4 separate regions of the Homo sapiens genome follow, and regions 1, 2 and 3 are each linked to region 4. The links come from fine-mapping of genetic effects on gene expression. A gene starts in region 4. Each other region holds a variant in brackets. All regions are shown on one strand. Distances are from middle to middle.

Evidence for each region.
Region 1: its variant is fine-mapped to the expression of STIM2 in whole blood (TOPMed, PIP 0.98).
Region 2: its variant is fine-mapped to the expression of STIM2 in lung (TOPMed, PIP above 0.99). The same link has a PIP of 0.9 or more in visceral fat.
Region 3: its variant is fine-mapped to the expression of STIM2 in whole blood (TOPMed, PIP 0.92).

What each region holds. Positions count from the first base shown.
Region 1 is chr4:26,934,491-26,936,990 of GRCh38, forward strand. All of the region lies in intron 2 of STIM2 (stromal interaction molecule 2), which reads left to right. Among named protein-coding and RNA genes, the nearest start is that of STIM2, 75 kb to the left of the region's middle. The variant G/A (reference allele first, on the strand shown) is at 1,073.
Region 2 is chr4:26,825,210-26,827,973 of GRCh38, forward strand. It overlaps a transcript of TBC1D19 not described here. Among named protein-coding and RNA genes, the nearest start is that of STIM2-AS1, 34 kb to the right of the region's middle. The variant C/T (reference allele first, on the strand shown) is at 1,607.
Region 3 is chr4:26,886,446-26,888,945 of GRCh38, forward strand. All of the region lies in intron 1 of STIM2 (stromal interaction molecule 2), which reads left to right. Among named protein-coding and RNA genes, the nearest start is that of STIM2, 27 kb to the left of the region's middle. The variant C/T (reference allele first, on the strand shown) is at 987.
Region 4 is chr4:26,859,142-26,861,886 of GRCh38, forward strand. STIM2 (stromal interaction molecule 2) reads left to right here and starts at 1,700. Exons shown (of 12, transcript NM_020860.4): 1 at 1,700-2,228. The coding sequence starts at 2,078. STIM2-AS1 (STIM2 antisense RNA 1) reads right to left here and starts at 1,458. Exons shown (of 2, transcript NR_134674.1): 1 at 1,369-1,458; 2 at 483-887. RefSeq lists an enhancer at 1,257-1,356 and silencers at 1,447-1,816, 1,827-2,396.

The DNA of each region.
Region 1 (2,500 bases), 75 kb after region 4:
ATGGCCACTGTTTGCAGGTTTCTTCATCATATAGCACATTAGTTGCTGACCTTTTAATGATGTCCACTGTGCATTTTATGATTAAAATTAGTTCTGATACTTGTGATACCTGTAAGAAGTGGTAATATAAGAATAGAACAAGGCTAGGCGCGGTGGCTCATGCCTGCAGTCCCAGCACTTCGGGAGGCCGAGGTGGGTGAATCTCCTGAGGTCAGGAGTTTGAGACCAGCCTGACCAACATGGAGAAACCCTGTCTCTACACAAAATACAAAATTAGATGGGCATATTGGCACATGCCTGCAATCCCAGCTACTCAGGAGGCTGAGGCAGGAGAATCACTTGAACCCGGGAGGTGGAGGTTGTAGTGAGCCGAGATCGCGCCATTGAACTACAGCCTGGGCAATAAGAGCGAAACTCCATCTCAAAAAAAAAAAAAAAAAAAAAAAGAACAAAGTTCACTTATTTATACTAGTTTAGGGAAAAAAAGCAGAGAATGAGTGAGGCAGAAAGTGTAGATATCATTTTGATAAGGGAAGACATGATTAAACTTTTTAAAATATCTTTTCCTATAAATTTGCCACTATGTCTTTATATTTTAGCTGCAAATTCTATTTTAAAATTTAATTTATATCTGGATTGTGGATGTCTGTTGATCTGAAGAGACCCAGGAAGTAATGATTTTGGACGCCATTGATTAGGAATCTGGAAGAAAGATTCTTATGTAGGTGGAAGTCATCTTATAGGGTATGTGTAAGGTATTTTGGTCTTCAGCAACTCACCAAAGCGTGCTGAGCATTACATACTTGTTTGTCATTTTGGTTACCTCTTCTTTGTTTACGTATATGTAACTATAGTTTAAATTATTCAAAATGAGATAGGCACTCTATACATCTTTTAGAAGCAAGATATTAAATAGAAAAAGGTTAGGGCCACCCTAATACTTCTCATTTAGCTTACAGAGTGAGAAAGGAGGGAAAGAAGTAGATGAAAATGGAGTTGGTGTAGTTCCAAGAAATTGCTCTAAGGAGTAAATAAATTGATGCTCCCTTGACAAGCAGTATTAACTTAACAT[G/A]AAAACTTGTTAGAAATGCAAATTCTTGAGCCCCACCCCAACCCTACTGAATCAGCAGCTTGGGGATGGGACCTAGCAATCCGTTTTAACAAATCCTCTGGGTGATTCTGATGAAGTTTGAGAACCACTAGACTTTCAGGACTCTGATAGTAGCCAGAAGCTCTTTATCTTGACCTTTTATGAGTAGACAGTATAGTTACAAATCTTACTTTTTTTATGATTAGGTCTTTGAAAATATGGTTCATGACTTACTCTTTGTACCTTGATAAATCTTAAAGTTTTGCATTATATTTTTACAGTTCTTTTAATCTCAGGCACAATATTTATAAATATAAATACTACTGTGATGCTCTTGCAAGATACCTTGTTTTCTGCTCCTGTATTTTGTGACTTTACTTTTGCCAAGTTCAACCTTAAAAATTTCTTTGTATGTTTTATAGGAAGTCATTGACATTCAGTTACTATAAAGCAGGGTTGTATTTGTCTTTTTTATGTGGGGGAGGATCTTTTGGTTTTTAAAGTAAGATGGTTCTGTAACCTAGATGGTTAAGAATCATTGTGCAAGTTATTGAGACAGATTTTAAGAAAACATCTGATGATTTTATATTAGAATATTTCTTACTTAAATTGTGAAACTTCTACCTGGTCCCAGCATTTATTTAGTTTAGTACTTATGTCCTTATGTCCTGACAATTATAGTAACCTATTTACTGGAGTTTCTTCTCTGTCTCTTGCTTTTCCAGTTCATTTACCAACTGCTGTTGAGTTATCTTTTTGTTTATGACATTTGATAAGAGCTGATCCTCCCAGAGCATTTGTGGTCATGTATCTGCTTGTCCCTCAAAGCAACCACAATAGAAAACAGCTTTCTCTTATTCTACTGTTTCTTATCATCCAGACTATCTAATCTCTATGCTTGAGTTCTGATTTATTATTGGGGGTTCCCTCTTGCTGAGGCTGTCTTAGTCATAGGCCATTTGAGAAACACCATTGGTTGTATATAGTTCAGTTATATACAGATTAAATAGGATTTTGTGAACTAGGAAGTTAAACACCATAACATAGTTTCTGTGGAAAGATATGCTTCACTTAGTGGATACATACTCTTAAATGCAACCTACTTATAAACTGAGAATAACTGACTGTAGTATGAGATCTGTGTATGAAGAACCAAAAACTTCTGAAATCATTTCATAGTATGGAGCATCGAAACATTCAACCCAGTGCCTTTTGCCTTTTTTGTTTGAGACAGCATGTCGCTCTGTCACCCAGGCTGGAGTTCAGTGGCGTGAACATGACTCACCACAGCCTTGACCTCCTGGACTCCAGGCATCCTCCCACCTCAGCCTTCCAAGTAGCTGGGATACAGTCATGAGCCACCATGCCTGGCTAATTTTTATATTTTTTGTAGAGATGGGGTTCCAGCGT
Region 2 (2,764 bases), 34 kb before region 4:
TGCCTCAGTTTCCCGAGTAGCTGGGACTACAGGTGCACACCACCACGCCCAGCTAATTTTTGTATCTTTAGTAGAGATGGGGTTTCACCAAGTTGGCCAGGATGGTCTCAATCTCTTGACCTCATGATCCGCCTGCCTTGGCCTCCCAAAGTGCTGGGATTACAGGCATGAGCCACCACGCCTGGCTGATTTAGGATTTTTAAACTTTTCTTTCAGGAGTAACTAGGTATATAAGGGCATGCCTCATTAGTCAGTAATTTTTATTTTTTCAATGACATTTTCTTTAATTTTTCAACATTAAGAAAAAAATCCAGGCCATAGTGAATGTAGTTTGGTTGGAAACACTCATTGTTCACTGTTTTGAAGATTTGCTGCCAATTTTCTCTATCAGTGACCTGCCACAAATTAGTTAAGTAGCATGATCTGAGAGGTGCTATTGTGTGGTTATACTAGTTAAGTAAAAGGGGTTTGGAGCCAGACTTTTGGGTGCAACTCCCAGCCCTACCACTTAGTTGTGTGACATCAGAAAAATTACTTAAAAATCTCTGTGCCTCATTTTTCTCAACTGTAAAACAGGGTTAATAGTATCTCCTTCATAGAATTGTTATAATATCAGTAGGATGAATAAGGCCATTGAAACAGGGCCTGGTCCAAGTTAAGCCTGCAATAAACATTAACTATTAGTAATGGCATATGAAAATAGCTAAGCTGGCCGGGCATGGTGGCTCACGCCTGTAATCCCAGCAGTTTGGGAGGCTTAGGCGGGCGAATCATTTGAGGTCAGGAGTTCAAGACCAACCTGGGCAACATGGCGAAACCCCATCTCTACTAAAAATACAAAAATTAGCCAGGCTTGGTGGCATGCACCTGTAATCCCAGCTACACAGGAGGCTGAGACAGGAGAATTGCTTGAACCCAGGAGGCAGAAGTTGCAGTGAGCTGAGATCGTGCCATTGCACTCCAGCCTTGGTGACAGAAAGAGACCTTGTCTCAAAAATAAAAAGTGAAAAAAAAATTCAAAGATCATATTTTTGTAATAAAAGAACAATTTAATTCCCACTGCACATAGGACTTCGCATTCTGCCTGCCCATTGTTTAACTCTAGTATCAGGGAATTCCTGCCCAGCTGCTGGATACATATTCAGTGACAGCAATAATCATGAATAGAAGGATATTTCAAACAGTTTAAAGTTGATTTATATTTGTGCCCTTACTGTCTGCTCATAGTAGGTGAACATTATTTAGAGGGGGGAAAAATAAGTGTCATTATTACTAAGTTTTAAATTCTAAACAAAGAGATCATTCTTATTAAGATATTAGAGCTGTTACAAACATAAAATGCTTCTCATCTCTCTCCAATATACCTTTCAAAATTCTCTCTTTGAAAATCATTGTTATAGATGATGTCCGCGTGTATTTTGTTAGATTGAGTTTAGATCAATATTCCACAACCCTAACAATGAATAGAGTCCAGTAAAGTTTGGCCTAATGGCATTTCAAGGTCTATAACTGTTGGCGAGCAGGAAAGACTACTGTTTTAACTTCATGAGGGTTACTGCCCCGGTGGCGGGTGGATGTTTATAATGGTTCCGGGTGTGGGTGGTGA[C/T]GTAGATTCAGAGCATGGAGGAAAGTGAAGTGCTATTAGCAATAAAAGATAAACCCTTCCAGAAATAATAACTGTTATGAAACCGGAAAGAACCTCCCAGCCGTGCAGTTCAACCCCCTACTGAGATATGAGGCGAGGCAAGTCTCTCCCCTAAACTGGTTACATAATATTTTTTTCCTCAGGAGGTTTCACTACCTCTTTTATAAACTGTTAATGTGTTTATTGAATCGTATCATGGAGAAAGGAAACTAATGATTAACTTTTAACCATGATAGCTTGGCCTTGCCATGATACTTCTGGTGAACTGATGGAGACTGCTCTTCCATAGCCTTTCCTGGCTCCTTAACACAAATTCAATCACAGTAAGTGGCAAATGCTTATAAAGATGGAAAACACTTTATTTTCATCTTCACTTAATTAAAACAGCCAACTTTAAAGGTATTACTGTTTCAGGAATCTCTCTTCTTCATCACCAAATCTATCCTTTGGGTCAAAATCATCAGGCATTGGCAGGCACAGTGACTCACGCCTGCAATCCAATCATTTTGGGAGGCCAAGGGAGGCAGATCACTTGAGGCCAGGAGTTCAAGACCAGCCTGGCCAACATGGAGAAACCTCGTCTCTACTAAAATACAAAAATTAGTCAGGCATGGTGGCAGACGCCTGCAGTTCCAACTACGCAGGAGGCTGAGGCATGAGAATTGCTTGAATCTCGGAGGCAGAGGTTGCAGTGAGCCAAGATTGCACTACTGCACTCCAGCCTGGGCGAGAGAGCAAGACTGTCTCAAAACAAAACAAAACAAAATCAGGCTGGCACTCACCTACTCAGCCCTAACTTCAAGCAAATGTTTTTGAGGATGGAACCAATTTATTAGAGCTTTCTTTTTTTGTTTTTTGTTTTGTTTTTTTTTTTTTGATAGGGTCTTGCGATGACACTCAGGCTAGAATGCAGTGCCTATTTACAGGTGCAATAATGCACACTGCAGCCTCGAACTCCTGGGCTCAAGCAATCCTTCTGCCTCAGCTTCCTGGGTAGGTGTGAATACAGGCATGTGTGCCGCTGTGCCCAGCTATTTTATTAGGCTTTGAGATTAACGTAGGCCACCTGACAAATCCATATCTGAAAATACTTAAAATAGCTTTGAAATGGTTCCTCTA
Region 3 (2,500 bases), 27 kb after region 4:
ATGTTAGGGAAAGTATATGTGTGTTTGCTGTTATTTAAGGTGGTCAGGGAAATCTTCATAGTTGACATTTGACAAGAGAGAAGGGAGAGACAGAGGGATGAGACCCTTCAGGTGGAGAGAATGGCATGTGCATGGGCCCTGATGGATACCATTGTTGGATTTTTGGAGAAACTTCCAGGAGACCACAGGGCTGGTGTAGAGTAAGCAATGGAGAGAGTAATAGATAGATCAGAGAGGTTGTCTGGGCTAGAATGTACAGTCTTGTAGACATCATCTACAAGATGTGAGGACATTGTCATTGTATGTCATGTACTCTGAGATGGGGAGCTACTGCAGGGTTTTTGAGAAGTGTGACATGATTTGATTTATGTTTGGAAATGATCACTTCAGCTCTTTCACTGAAATGACACTCTAGAAGGTCTAGTCTTAGAGCAGGGAGACCAATTAGTAGGCTTTTGTCCGGGGAGAGAAAGTGCTAGAGCTCCCTTGTTAGCTATGGAGGTGGTAATAGGTGGTATAGGTGGAGCTATATGTGGATGCTAAATACAGTGAAAGCCCTTCTGTTCTGTTGTCCTGAAAATCAAGTTCATTGTTATATGAACTTTATTGTGAAGTAAAGACATAAAAGCTTATGCCTTTATAGGATATAATTTAAAGAGCTAGGAAATTGGAACAACCCGTAGTGTTCAACTGCTGAATGTTACAAGATACAATAAGCACCAAACCAAATAATTAAACTTTTTTTTTTTTTTTTTTTTTTTTGCCTCTTGCCTTGTCCGTGATCCCTTTAAAACTTAGAATTTATTTGAGCTTTTTTTCTTTACTGTTTTGTTTGATGTTGCTTTCATTTTCTACTTGGGTTAAGATGTATCTTGCTAATAATCTAAGATCACACCGTGCTGTTACAGAATTACAGACTTTGATTGAACTCAAGGAAGTGGACAAAGCCTAAAGCTCAAACTGTCTGCTAATTACAGGAACTTCTC[C/T]GGTGTATCCCTTATAGACTGTCATTCATTAGCTCCTCAGATACTTTGGGTGGTTGGGAACTTATTGCTCCTGAACAACTTTTCCATTAGTAGGCAGTTCTGGTTTGTGAGAAGTTCTTTGTTGCATTAAACTAAAATCTTTCAGTACTTTCTTTGGGTTCTAGATGTATCCTTTGAAGCAAAGAGTGGCTATTTTTTCTCTTAATGTTTTAAAAGACCCTGTATTAGGGTTCTGTACAGAAATAGAACCAGAAGGAATGAATGTATATGTTCATTATTACAAATTAATAATATAATTTTATATAGTGCATATCTGTAATTATATTACCAATTATTTAGTTGCACTTAAAATACTCAAAGATGTAACTTAAAATAATTAATTGTTTTATACATGTATCTACATATCTACATAGATAGACATAGGTAAAACATAGAGACTTATTTCAAGGAATTGGCTGAGGTAATTGAAAAGATCCAAATCCAAATCCAAAATCCATAGGATAGGCTGGCAGATTGGAAACTCTTGGGCAGGCGATGATGCTGCAGTCGTGGGGCAGAATATTTCTTTCTCAGAAAAGGCTTTCCTGCTGATTGGATCAGGCCCACCCACATTTCCAAGAATAATTTCCTTTGCTTAAAGTCAACTGATTGTAGATGTTAACTGTGTTTACAAAATACCATCACAGTAGCACCCAGGTTAGTGTTTGATTGAATAACTGGATACTATAGTTTAGACAAGTTGATACATAAAACTGTCATAGTCCATCCTTGTCAACTTGGCGCCCATACACATCTTCTTAAATGATACTTAATCTCCAAATGAACGCAATAACAAAGTCATACTTCTGCCTAACATAATATGAATATCCTTCAAACAACTGAAAACATGCCAACCCTTTCCCCAGAAGAGGATGCGGAGTCCCTGGGTAATGTTCATTCTCCCTAATAAGCTATAACTTAAATATCATGATGTAAAGTTAGCTATTATTAATATATCTTATGTCAGATGATAAAGGGATTAAAGAGCAAGAAAACAAAGATATTTGCTAAATATTTGAATACATTCGTTACAAAATAAGACATAACAGTTACAGTTTTCTGTGGCTGGTCACATGGTCGTAGCTGGTTTTTGTTTATGATTACCTTCTTGCACTATCCATTCCATTTTTCCCTTTCCCTTAGCAAGCACCTTAGCTCTTTGTGGTTCTTTGCCTGTTGGGGTGATCCAAAACTTTGTTCCTGAAGGGTCTGGGCATACCCAATTTAAGTAGTCCTTAAATTGGGTTATTGTAGTTTTCCATTGACTTTAATCACAGAGCATGGCAGTAATTACAAGATCTCTTGTATTCCGGACTTAGTCTTTTAATCACAGAGCGTGAAAGTAATTACAAGATCTCTCGTATTCTGGACTTAGTCTTTCATACCTCCATTGTATGGTAGCAGTTGAATTTCTTCTTAGTAACCAGCAACCCTGGTCAGTACACTAACCCTGGGTCTTCTTTGCCTGTTCATTC
Region 4 (2,745 bases):
TGTCTCTCTTGCCTAACCCTCACCACTCAGTACTCTGCCTGGCACATACTAGGTACTCAGTAAACATTTAATAAATGAAATGCCTCCTGGAGAGCAGGAACAAGCTTGTTATTTATATTGTTCTGGTCCCCTAGCAGAATTATCTTCTCTGGTGGGCACTCAGCACTCTGGTGTGACTTCATCGCTGTGCCTTTCAGCAGGGGAAATATAATCTCCCGGTTGCCCTATAAAGAATTGCCACCTGAACACTATGCCCACAAGAAGTCTGCTGAGAAATAACTGTTGATAGATTGACTTAGCCTCAAAGACATCCTTGATTCTTTTCTAAAGTGTGCATCTGCCCTTCCACAATAAACGATATTTGTGGTTATCTTGGCCAGGCTACCTAAGAAATACTTTAGGAGAATGTAATTTGAGTATCTTCTTGGCTTGAGAAAGCAAGCAAACAAACCAATAAGCAGAATGAAACCAACAAAACCCAATAGCAAAAGGATCTTCGTGTTTAATAACCCTATCTGCAAATTTTAAACAATTTTGTGCCCCTGGGAGAAAGAATGCCTCCTTGCGTGTGAATTTCCAGGGCTTTTAATTTATAGTGACAGTACATTCAACACTTCCTTTTAAATTTGAAGGGAGGTGGCCTTAAAAATATGCTGGCAACTAGTTTGGATGAGAAAGATTCCGGTTCTTTATTTATTCAAACCAATTAGACCAGGTCTGAACAGGATTTACAACAGAGAGCAGATCTTGGGTGCACAAGAGCTTTGCTTCATTCCAGGTTGGCGAAAACAAGTCAAGTCTACATCATTGTTCTGTCAGCCGGTTCAGGATACAGCACAGAGTCGATGGGATGGGGGTGGGAAGGTGATGAGTTCAGGTAAATGTACCTAGGAGAGTCAGAGGCTAAAGTAAATTCTCTTAAATAGGCCTTTTCAGTGGCTGCTAAATCTCGCTCATTTCCCATGAATTAGCTGTGGGATATTGGGGACAACTTACTTCACATTTCTAGGTCTTAGTCTCTTCATTCGTAAAAGGGGGTAACGATAATTTTGGAGTTATAGCATGTAAATGTGTAAAACGGTTAGAGCAATGCCTGGTACACTCACACATAGCACGCGCTTTGTGAAATGTTTGGCAAGTAAATAAAACGCTAAGCTATGCTAACCGCGTCTAAACAGCCAGCCACTTGTAAGCCCCACCTATATTGAAATTACGGGGACGCTGCTGTTTTCCGATTGCAAGATTTTCCTGATCCATGCAATTACTTTCGCTGCCCTCTACGAGGCTGAAACTCGCCCTCAGGATGTGGGACGTCTGGACTCTTCTCTCCGTCCCCTTGTAGCCCCCCACTCCCCCTCGCGGTGGTACCGTGAATGAGGGAGAGGTACACGTCCCCCTTCTTCCCCGCCTCCTATCTTCGCGGCTCGCTAAAGCGTTATCAGCCGCCCCACGGTACTACCGTCCGTCTAGGAACGCCTCCGGGGCGGGGCTGGGATGCCGCGCACGCGCAGTACAGCAGCGCCGCGCCTGCGCCGTGGAGAGCCTGAGGGAGGCGGGGGATTGGTATGCGAGCGAATGTGCGAGGGGAGGGAGGCGTCCCGGCGGAGCGTGGTACTACGACCAGCGCGGGCCGGAGGGGGCGGGGGGATGCGCCGCGGCGGCGGCGGCGCGGGAGCTGGGGTTGGTGTTTGGCGGCGCCAGAGCAGCGGATCCCGGTCTCGCCGCAGCAGCAGCGCGGGTGTCGTGCACCGCCTGAAGACGCCGTACCTTTCTACCCCCCACCTTTTTTTTTTTTTTTTTTAAATAACCGGAACCAATGAACGCAGCCGGGATCAGAGCTCCGGAGGCCGCCGGTGCCGATGGGACCAGGCTGGCGCCCGGCGGGAGCCCGTGTCTGAGGCGGCGGGGGCGGCCGGAGGAGTCGCCGGCGGCGGTGGTGGCGCCTCGCGGAGCCGGCGAGCTGCAGGCGGCCGGGGCGCCGCTGCGCTTTCACCCGGCTTCTCCTCGGCGCCTTCATCCCGCCTCGACTCCTGGCCCAGCGTGGGGCTGGCTGCTGCGGCGGCGGCGCTGGGCTGCGTTGCTGGTGCTCGGGCTGCTGGTAGCCGGAGCGGCGGACGGATGCGAGCTTGTGCCCCGGCACCTCCGCGGGCGGCGGGCGACTGGCTCTGCCGCAACTGCCGCCTCCTCTCCCGCCGCGGCGGCCGGCGATAGCCCGGCGCTCATGACAGGTGAGGGGCCGGGGGGCGGCGGGCGGGGCTCGGCCGGCAGCGATGGGACCCCCAACCCGTGCAGAGGTCAGCATCTCCGCCGGACGTCCGCTATTCCGCGGCTCCGGCCAGGGCGCGATGCGGAGCCCTGCCTGCTGCTTCGTCGCGGTCCCCTGCACTCCGGACGTCTTTCCTTTTCACCCCGACACCCCGCCCTCGCCGAGCCTCTCGACGGCACTGATTCCCCTCCCTTCAGTCGGGCTCTCCGATCTTCCAAGCTGAGCAATGCGGTGGTTTCTCTTTCGTGCTGCAGAAGTGCCAGCAGGGTCTGCAGGGGACTGGGCTGATTTTTTTTTTTTTTTTTTTTTTGAGGCTGCTAGAAAAAGTCAGCAGCAGCATTGCGGTATTGAGTCTACCTCTGGTGCTGCTTTTGCAAAGGCAGCTGGCAGCGAGTCTCACCGGTTCAAAGCTCCGCTTGAGCACAGCGTCCCAGGGGAGCCTGCTAAAGGGGATTCTTTGAGAGCCATAATACCTAGTG